Linked DNA regions of Homo sapiens: region 1 is linked to region 2. The links come from fine-mapping of genetic effects on gene expression. A gene starts in region 2. The other region holds a variant in brackets. All regions are shown on one strand. Distances are between the middles of the regions.

Region 1 (5,381 bases), 20 kb before region 2:
CTTCAACACTGTCTTCTGTTTCCTAAGAGGCAGCTCAAGAACAATGTTCATACCAACTGATATATGCCAGCAAGCAGTAGGGAAAGACGTAGGTTCCATGCTACTTTAAATGTTACACATTTCATTTGGAATGCATACTGGATTGCAGAGATACTGAAAAACACATGTGATGTTTAGTATGGAAAATCTTGTTATGTCCTAATTATCACAGAGGACAAGAATTTCAAATTCCCAGTGATTATGCTAAATTCACATGTGCAGATCTAAAGCATACCACTTGTGTTTTGTGGCATATCCACATAAAACCACTAAATTCATAGGATACTGTTTGTATATTTCTTATGCTGCTGTCTAGAATACTCAATTCATTCAAGATTTTAAAAAGCTCATTGTAGTACAACTGGGTATGGCTATTTACAACTGGATATATTCTGATATGTATTCTTTAGCTGGGTATCACATGTAACTTCCAGTATAATGTTCTCATGGGATCCTATTTTTAATACATTTTTGAGTTGAGAGATTGCATCTCAGTATGAATTCCCATGTTCCCTCAATACTGTCATGAGGTTTTTCACCCGCTTGAAGAGTTCTGGCAGGAGTTTTCCACAGTAAGACCTGGCTGGAGTTTCAGGGTTTCTCCCCGATGTGAACTCTCTGATGGACACTGAGTCGGGACTTCCTGCTAAAGGCCTTCCCACATTCGGAACACTCATATGGTTTCTCTCCTGTGTGGATTCGCAAGTGTAATCTAAGAGTTGACCTCTGGCTGAAAGTTTTGCCGCACTCAGTACATTCATAGGGTTTCTCTCCTGTATGAGTTCTCATGTGTATGATGAGCTGTGAGTTCTGGATAAAGGATTTTCCACATTCACTGCACTCATAGCGTTTCTCCCCCGTGTGAATCTTCTGATGTATGATAAGGTTTGACTTCTTAAAGAAGGTTTTTGCACATTCGTTACACTCATAGGGTCGCTCTCCTGTATGAATTCTCTGGTGTGTGGTGAGTTCAAACTTTTGGGCAAATGTCTTTCCACATTCACTGCACTCATAGGGCTTCTTCTCCATATGTGCTCTCTGGTGTACAATGAGGTTTGACTGGTGGGTGAAAGCTTTTCCACATTCCGGACACTCGAAAGGTTTCTCCCCAGTGTGAATTCTCTGATGTTTGATGAGGTTGGCCTTATGGGAGAAGGTTTTCTTACATACATTGCATTCATATGGCTTTTCTCCAGTATGTATTCTCTTATGACTAATGAGGAGTGACTTAAAGGAGAAAGCCTTGTCACAGTAAGTACAAATGAAAGGTTGAACCAAGTTTTTTATTTTCTGATGTTTAAAAATGGCTGCTTTATGGCTGAGGGCTTTTCCACTTTTATTGTATTCAGAATATTCTACTCCACTGTGGGTTTTCTCTTGCTTCAGGTAGAGAAGTGCTTTTCCAAATTCATTACACTCATCAGTCTGCTTTCCTGCATAGCTTCTATTACTATTAAGCAAGTCTGAATTATATTTCAAAGTTTTTTCATATAAGTCATATTTATAAGGTACTTGTCTTAAAGAAACAAAGTCTGTGTTCAGATTAAGTGCTTTTCCAAAGAGATCGCCTCTTTCCTCAATTGGGGTTTGGTTCTTAAGAATTAAAAATTGCCTCGCCTGCTCGTCTGGGTTTCTGTGGTCTCTCTCCATCTGGTCATCAGCCTTCCACACTTCTAGGAATAGAGAGCACAATGAAAAGAACCTTGTCAATGCCTCCGCTATAATGTTACCGAATGGGAAGTCTTCACACGTGTTCTATCACAGGGCTGACTCTTTAGTTTGGGACCCAGTCTCCCAATATTAAAAAATTCCCAGTGCAAATGTTTCCTTTCAAACTTTGAAAGAGAAAGGTAATAGCTTGTGGTTAAAAAAACAAAACAAAACCAAAATCAATACAAGTAGCATTGCCAGATCACAAAATGACCTTAAAGTGGGCAGAGAGGGTGAAAGGAGACAGAAAACAGAACACAATATGAGAAGGCTGGCAATGCCAGGGAGGGAGATTCACAGTGTTCTTAAGGACACTGCAGTTAGCACAGAGACCGAGAAAGTAAGCAGATGAGGGAATTAAGGGGAAACACCTAAGCAGATCTCGACTAATAGTATTATTTGCTAAACTCGGACTACTATGGTAGAACCAGCACCAGTCTGCATAGTTCTAAGCTTTTTCTCCTTTTTTTCTACTGTTCATCTTTACCAAAATGATTTCCAGAGAACAGCACTTCTCATAGGTTTGCAGTGACAACCAGATAGCAGAGCTCCAAATCTCTTAAGTGAGAATCTTGCAAATGGTAAAATCCAGAAACTCATTCGCTAAGAGATACACAACCCTTACCACAGGATCACTAACTGCTGCTGGTTTTATTGCTTTTTTTTTT[C/TC]TACTGAAGTTGCTGGGAGAGTGAACATGTTTTCACTATCATATCCTACTTTTCTTCCATTCCTATTTAGAGATAGGGTCTCCCTCATTTGCCCAGGCTGGAGTGCAGTGGCACAATCATAGCTCACTGCAGCCTTGACCTCCTGGGCTCAAGGGATACTCTCAATATTCCAGGCATGAGCCACCATGCCCAGCCTACTTCTTTCAATGTGTTCAGCATCTTAAGGATAAAGTTACCCAGGTTCATTAAGTCAAACAACAGATACTGGCAAGGCTAAGATACACTGTTGGTGGGAATTTAAATTAGTTCAGCCACTGTGGAGAACAGTCTGAAGATTTCTCAAATAATTCAGAACTACCCTTTCACATAGCAATCCCATTAAAAATCATCTGGCCAGGCACACTGGCTCATGCCTGTAATCCCAGCACTTTGGGAGGCCAAGGCAGGAGGATCACTTGAAGTCAGGAGGTCTTATTTTTGTTTTTTTGAGATGGGGTCGGTCTCTGTTGCCCAGGCTGGAGTATAATGGTGTGATCTCAGCTCACTGCAACCTCCGTCTCCCGAGTAGCTGGGATTACAGGCACATGCCACCATGCCCGGCTTATTTTGTATTTTTAGTAGAGAGGGGTTTTCACCATGTTGTTGGTGCTGGTATTGAACTGACCTCAGGTGATCTGCCCGCCTCAGCCTCCCAAAATGCTAGGATTATAAGCATGAGCCATGGCGCCTGGCCTGGGGTCAGGAGTTCTACAGAGAACTTGTCTCTACAAAAGTAAAAAATAATTAGCAGGACATGGTGGTGTGTGTCTGTGATCCCAGCTACTCCAGGCTGAGGTGGGAAGACTACTTGAGCTCAGGAGGTGGACGCTACAGTGCACCGTGATGTCACCACTGGATTCTAGCCTGGGTGACAGAATGAGACCCTGTCTCAAAAAAAGATTCTACCAAAAAGACACATGCCCACTCATAGGTTCATCACAGCACTATGCATAATAGCAAAGACATGGAATCAACCTAGGTGCCCATTAATGGTGGACTGGAAAAGAATGGTACATGTACAAGACACAACAAAGTTTAAGATATGTTAGGAAAGTTTCAGGGTTCAAGTGTGAGAGGCAAATATCTATAAGATTAAACAGGAAAAAAAAAAAGGTAAGCAGGGAGAGACGGATATTTGGAGGTATGCTTCAGAGATTGAGGTACAGGTCATCTGTCCTCAGCTATACTTAAGTGTTAGGGATTTGAAAAACAGATTGCTGAAAAGTATTTCAAAGGTACTGAGCTGCTCATAATCGTCTGGATACTAATTCCACTGGCTTCTGCTTCTCCCTCTCTCCCGTCCTATCTCCCTTAGAATGTTCTGAATTGACAACTCTATGCTACCCAAAACTCTTCTGGTTGCTCCAACTTGAAAATTGCATATGGCTTGACAGCCATTTACTAATGGGACATAGCTCCTAATTGCCTGGACTTCAGAAGCCTTAAAGGAAAGGAGATGATAGAGCTTTAAAGGCTGCAAGATCTCTCAGGTTTAATACCTGAGGACTTAGGCCAAAAACATTTAGTAATTCAGAAGCTCATTTCTGGTCACTGAGACAGGACATAAATACCTCTAGGCACATGGTGAGCTGTACCTGAAAACCGTCCTTACCCACTGAAAGTAAGTTGCTATAATTCTCCAGCATCACATCCATGTATAGGATCCTCTGAGAGGGGTCCAGTTGTTCCCATTCCTCCTGGGTAAAGTCCACAGTCACATCCGTGAATGAAACTGATCCCTGAAATGGCATATTGTTATTCATCCTAAGATGATCATTTGGTGATATAGAAAGGATAGATGAAAACTTTATGTCATTCATCATGAAAATCTATATATTACACCAACGATACATCTTGTTCACTGTTTTTGTTCATGTCTTCCAAAATATATTTTTATAAATAGTTGAGATTTATTCAGATTCCCCTATATCTCTGGCACTGTCATATTTGATAGGTGTCTCAGATTAATAAAACACTATTGGCCAGGCATAGTGGCTCACACCTGTAATCCCAGCACTTTGGGAGGCTAGGTGGGCGGGGGAATCACTTGAGGTCGGGAGTTCGAGACCAGCCTGGACAACATGGTGAAATCCCATCTCTACTAAAATTTAGTCGGGCATGGTGGCACATGCCTGTACTCCCAGCTACGTGGGGGAGCTGAGACAGGAGAACTGCTTAAACCCGGGAGGCAGAGGCTGCAGTGAGCCAAGACTGCACCACTATACTCCAGCCTGGGCAACAGAGTAAGACTGTCTCAAAAAATAAACACTGTTTCTGCTCTCAAGATGTGTACTGTGAGACAAGCACATTAGATATTCATTGTTACCAGTGTGCTAATAAAGCTCACATAGGCATTATTTCTGTGACATCGATGTTTAAATAGTCAAAGTTTTAACTCTTTAAGGCAGAAGATGAACTTCCAACTGTAAAATACCAGGTACAAGTAAGGATCTCTGTCCTTCCATCCCCTCATTCAAGCCATAAAAATGGTAGAAAATTTTTTTAAAAAATACATGGTTGAATTTAACAGGCCAGAATGGCTGAAGAAATGATTAGTCAAAAAATGTCAGTAAATATCTAAACTGAAATGCAAAAGGTACATTAAGGAGCCTAAAAGATATGTGGGACAAGCTAAAAAGGTCTAATATACTTGCAGCAGGAGTCCCAGCAGAGGCAGTGGAAACAATATTTGAAGAGATAACAGCTGAGAATTTTCCAACACACCCCACACCAGGCTATAGTTTTAAAACCAGCAACCCCAAGTACAATAAGTACATTAAAAAAAAAAAATACTCAGCATATAACAAAACTGATTTAAAACCCCAGAGGTGGCCAGGCTCAGGCCTGTAATCCCAGCACTTTAGGAAGCCGAGGTGGGCGGATCACAGGTGTTCGGGACCAACCTGGCAAAGATGGTGAAACCCC
Region 2 (5,381 bases):
GGCGCACACCTGCAGTCCTAGCTACTCGGGAGGCTGAGGCAAAAGGTTTGAGGTTGCAGACAGCTGTGACTGAACCACTGCACTCCAGCTTGGGCAACAGAGACAGACCCTGTCTCAATCAATCAATCAATCAAGGAAGATTCTACGATCAACAGCACAATATTTATTCAAATACACACGAAACAGTTACCCAGAGAGATCATCATATCCTCGACCTTAAAACAAACTACAACAGGCCTGGTGCAGTGGCTCACGCCTGTAAAGCACTTTGGGAGGCCAAGGTCAGCGGATCACTTGAGACCAGGAGTCTACTAAAACAAAATGAAACAAAAATACAATACAAAAACAAACCACAACAAATTTAAAATAATTGAAATTCGTAACACAGTATTCTGACCAAATCAGAATTAAACTATAAATCAATAATATAAAAAGATCTGGGCCGGGTGCGATGGCTCACGCCTGTGATCCCAGCACTTTGCAAGGCCGAGGCAGGTGGATCACCAGGTCAGGAGATAGAGACCATCCTGGCTAACACGGTGAAACCCCGTCTCTACTAAAAATACAAAAAAAAATAAAAAAATTAGCCAGGTGTAGTGGCGGGCGCCTGTAGTCCCAGCTACTCTGGAGGCTGAGGCAGGAGAATGGTGTGAACCTGGTAGGCGGAGCTTGCAGTGAGCCGAGATCTCGCTACTGCACTCCAGACTGGGCAACAGAGCGAGACTCTGTCTCAAAAAAAAAAAAAAAAAGATCTGGAAAATCTCCAAAAACTTGGAAATTATGCAATACAATCTAAATAAATAAGGGTAAAAAATGAAGTCACAAGGGAAGTTAAAAAAATTTGAATTGAATGGTAATGAAAACACAATAAAAAGGCTGGGTGCAGTGGTTCATGCCTGTAATCCCAGCACTTTGGGAAGCCAAGGCGGGAGAATCACTTGAGGTCAAGAGTTCTAGAGCAGCCGGGCCAACATGGTGAAACCCCGTCTCTACTAAAAATACAAAAATCAGCCAGGTGTAGTGGCGGGTGCCTGTAATCCCAGCCAGGAGGACTGCTTGAACCCGGGAGGCAGAGGTTTCAGTGAGCTGAGTGCCACTGCACTCCAGCCTGGGTGACAGAGTGAGACTCAGTCTCAAAAACAACAACAACAGAAAAGAAAATACAAGATATAAAAATTTGAGTGATGTAGTTAAAGTAGTATTTAGAGGAACAGTTACATCAATAAATTGTGTCTGGCCGGACGCGGTGGCTCACGCCTGTAATCCCAGCTACTCGGGAGGCTGAGGCAGAGCACTACTTTAACCCAGGAGGCGGAGGTTGCAGTGAGCCGAGATCAAGCCACTGCACTCCAGCCTGGACGACAGAGCGAGACTCCGTCTCAAAAAAAAAAAAAAAAAAAAGAAAGTAAAGAAAAGAAACGGTACAATACAAAAATATAGTATTACAATCACATAGGACCACCATTTTACATGAGGTCCCTCGTTGACAGAAACACTGTTACGCAGAGCGTGACTGCACCAGAATCATGGGAAAACTTTCGTATTTCAAAGTAGTGAAGAATTTTGGGTGCCCCAAACGGAAAGAACAGTAAATTCCACCCGAGAGAAATTTAAAACGTCAAAACGTATACATGGCAAAATCTACCAGCGAGTAAAATCAAAAGATAAATGAAAAAATATCTGCTGCTCACATAAAGTACCACCGGGTTGTGAGACCTTAGGGAAATCACTTTCCCCTTCTGAACCTCCCGTGTTCCTGGGATAGCGACGGAGATGATAACGCTGGAAGTCACGGGGTGGATGCGAGGATCAGGGGAACACCTCACTGAAGACCCTCTGACAAAGGGATCACGGTTCTCCTTCACCACCGGCAACTGACCAGGCTCCAGTCCTTCCTCCACCCACGAGGCACCGGGCATCGGGGCGTGGCCAGGTGTGTCAGGCCACGCCCCCACCACGCCCCGGCGGGGCCTCGTCCCGCGCGCGCGCGCCCGCCGGGGCTCCAGAACTCGCTCCCGCGCGGCCCGAGCCCTTCGCCGCCCGTCTGAGGCGCATCTCCTGACAAAGAGAAGAAGGCGAAGCCTCATAGCCGCCCTTCCCTCCGCCGTCCCCGCCCCCGCACGTTCGGCCAGGCGTGCCCCGCCGGCCCCGTTCAGAGGCGAGCGCCGGGCAACCCCGGACGCCGCCCTGAGGGTCACTGCCGCCTACGAGTAGCCGAAGTTTGGGCTCCCACCCTGCGCGGGCACGAGCCCATCCCTCATCTCCTTCCCCTCGGCCCCAGGCCGCGCGGAGCTACCTGGAAGCCCCTCTCGTACCTGGAGGGGCGCAGCCTCCACTCGTGGCCCAGTGCCACAGCGGGTCACGGCGCAGGGCGGCGAAGACGCGCGGAGACGGGGGCTCTGTCACCCACTCGCCGCTGGTGGTGGGGGAAGGGCGGCCACCGGCGCGCTCGCAGCACTGCACATGCGCAGAAACAGGGGCGCGGGCCGTTCCCAGGGTCCTCGGAGGGGTGGACCATCCACGTTCGGGACTACATTTCCCACAAGCCTCCGGGGCCGCGGCTTTAGGGACTCTCAGGAAAGTCTTCGCCTTGTTAGGCGGTCTGATGAGCCGACCAAAATAATCTCCTTAGCCTGCACTGTTTTCTTTTTTCCCAGAGTGGGTCGTGAACTACAATTCACCACCTCCCCCTTAAATACAACAACTTGGCTTTTAAACATTACACAAATAATCTATAACTGTATTTAATTAGAATATATGTACAAAATAAAGTATCCATAATCTCACTTTCTAAAGATTAACTGCGTATAACATTAAGTTCGCACTTTGATTTTTTTGTTGTTGTTACAAAACTGGCCATAAAGGTATCATGTGCTGCAACTAGCTTTTTTCCCTTTTTTCCCAGGCCACTTTGTTGAGGTATATATATTTGTTGAGATCTATATATTTAAGATGTACAACTTGATATCTACATTTGTGAAATATTCACCATAATCAAGCTAATTAACATGTGCATCACCTCACATAGTTATTTGTCTGATGAGAACACTTAAGATCTATCTTCTTAGCAAATTTCAAGTACACAATATTGTCAACTATCGTCACATAGCTGTGCATCTCCCCAGAACTACTCATCTTGCATAACTGAGACTTTGTACCCCTTGACCACCATCTTCCCATTTCCCTTCACCCTCAGTTCCTTTCATCCTTTAGAACAGTTTTAGGTTCACAGCAAAATTTGAGCAGAAAATACATTGAATTCCCATATAACCCATGTCCCCCCAGCACACACAACCTCCCCAAAGTTGATATCCCACACCAGAACAGTGTATTTGTTACAATTGGTGAACCTACAGTTAAATATCAGCACCTGGCCAGGCTCAGTGGCTCACACCTGTAATCCTAGCACTTTGGGAGCCTGAGGCAAGCAGATTGCTTGAGCCGAGGAATTTGAAACCAGCCTGGCCAAAATGGTGAAACCTCATCTCTTAAAAAAAAAAAAAAAATACAAAAATTAGCCGGGCATGGTGGCACGCACCTGTAGTCCCAGCTACTCGGGAGGCTGAGGTGGGAGGATCACTTGAGCCTGGGAGGCTGAGGTTTCAGTGAGCCAAGATTGTGCCACTGCACTCCAGCTTGGGTGACCCTGTCTCAAAAAGTATAAATTAAAAAACAAAATCATTGGCACCCAAAGTCCATAGCTTACATTAGTGTTCACTTGATGTTGTACATTCTATGGGTCTTGACAAATGCCTGTAACCATTACAGTATCGTACAGAATAGTTTCACTGCCCCCCAAAAAATCATCTGTGCTCCATTTATTCATCCATCCCACAACCCCTGGAAATCTCTGATATTTTTACTGTCTCCATAGTTTTGCCTTTTGCAGGTTGTCATATAGGTGGAATCATACATATGTTGCTTTTTCAGATTGGCTTCTTTCATTTAGTAATATACATTTAAGTTTCCCTCATGTTTCCCTCAAGTTACCCTGGCTTTTTTTTTTTTTTTTTTTTTTTGACACAGGGTCTCACTCTGTCACCCAGGTTGGAGTGCAGTGGTGCGATCATGGCTCACTGCAGCCTCCACTTCCTGGGCTCAAGTGACCCTCCCAGTTCAGCCTCCCAAGTAGCTAAAACTACAGGCATACACAGCCATGCCTGGGTAATTTTTTGTATTTTTTGTAGAGATGGCATTTTGCCATGTTGCCCAGGCTCGTCTCAAACTCCTGGGATCAAGAAATCCTCCTGCCTTGGCCTCCCAAAGTGCGGGGATTATAGGGATGAGCCACTGTGCCCAGCCTCAGTTCGTTTTAGTGCTGCATAATATTCTACTGTCTGCATGTACCAGTGTTTTAAATCCATTCACCTACTGAAGATACATTGGTTGCTTCTAAGTTTTGGCAACTATGAATAAAGCTGCTCTAAACATCTGTGTTCAGGTTTTGTGAGGATATAAGTTTCCAGTTCATTTGGGTAAATCGTATGGTTGCGGCCGGGTGCAGTGGCTCACGCCTGTAATCCCAGCACTTTGGGAGGCCGAGGCGGGCGGATCACGAGGTCAGGAGATCGAGACCATCCTGGCTAACACAGCGAAACCCTGTCTCTAATAAAAATACAAAAATAAAAATTAGCCGGGCGTGGTGGCGGGCACCTGTAGCCTCGGCTACTTGGGAGGCTGAGCCAGGAGAATGGCGTGAACCTGGGAGGCGGAGCTTGCAGTGAGCCGAGATTGCACCAATGAACTCCAGCCTGGGCGACAGAGCGAGACCCCGTCTCCAAAAAAAAAAAAAAAAATTAGCATGGTTGCTGGATTGTGTGGTAACAGTATGTTAATGAGACAGGAGAGTTCCCTGGACCCCTTCGCGGGACTTGTCGTGGCTAGCTTACTCAGCCACTGTGCTAAAACCCCTTATGGGAGGGGGAGCACAGAGGCAAGTGGGTGCCAGGGCCAGGGTGAGCACCTTTGGGCTCTGGCCCCATGGTAGCATCTAGGGGTGTGTTACAATTAATGCTCTTCTAGCAGTTGCCATCCATGGACAGCTAAGCGTTAACCAGCTCAGTGGAGAGTGAGGGTGACAGCCTTTTACACCCTGCCCTCTTAATACCCAGGTCCTTGTCCAGCATCCAGAAAGGATCAGGTCACATGGACTTGAAGAATGGTAAATGCAGAGGTTTTATTGAGTGAGGGAGGTGGCTCTCAGCAGGATGGGGAGCTGGAAAGGGGATGGCGTGGGAAGATAATCGTCCCCTGGAGTTCTGCTGTCCCTGGCCAAATTCCTCTCTGACCATCCAGCTACCTCTTCAATGCTCAATTGCTTCTTCTCTTTTCTCCTTCTCCACCACCTTGCTCTGCAGCTCTGCCCCTCTGCCCCTCTGCTG

What was found. PIP is the estimated chance that this variant, and not a neighbour inherited with it, causes the effect.
Region 1: its variant is the best candidate, but not a certain one, in a credible set for the expression of ZFP1 in lymphoblastoid cells (GEUVADIS, PIP 0.66).

The regions. Positions count from the first base shown.
Region 1 is chr16:75,165,584-75,170,964 of GRCh38, reverse strand. It overlaps ZFP1 (ZFP1 zinc finger protein), which reads right to left. Exons shown (of 4, transcript NM_153688.4): 3 at 4,069-4,195; 4 at 1-1,712. The coding sequence ends at 631. Among named protein-coding and RNA genes, the nearest start is that of ZFP1, 20 kb to the right of the region's middle. The variant C/TC (reference allele first, on the strand shown) is at 2,418.
Region 2 is chr16:75,145,578-75,150,958 of GRCh38, reverse strand. It overlaps ZFP1 (ZFP1 zinc finger protein), which reads right to left and starts at 2,435. Exons shown (of 4, transcript NM_153688.4): 1 at 2,316-2,435. RefSeq lists a silencer at 1,845-2,214 and an enhancer at 2,575-2,624.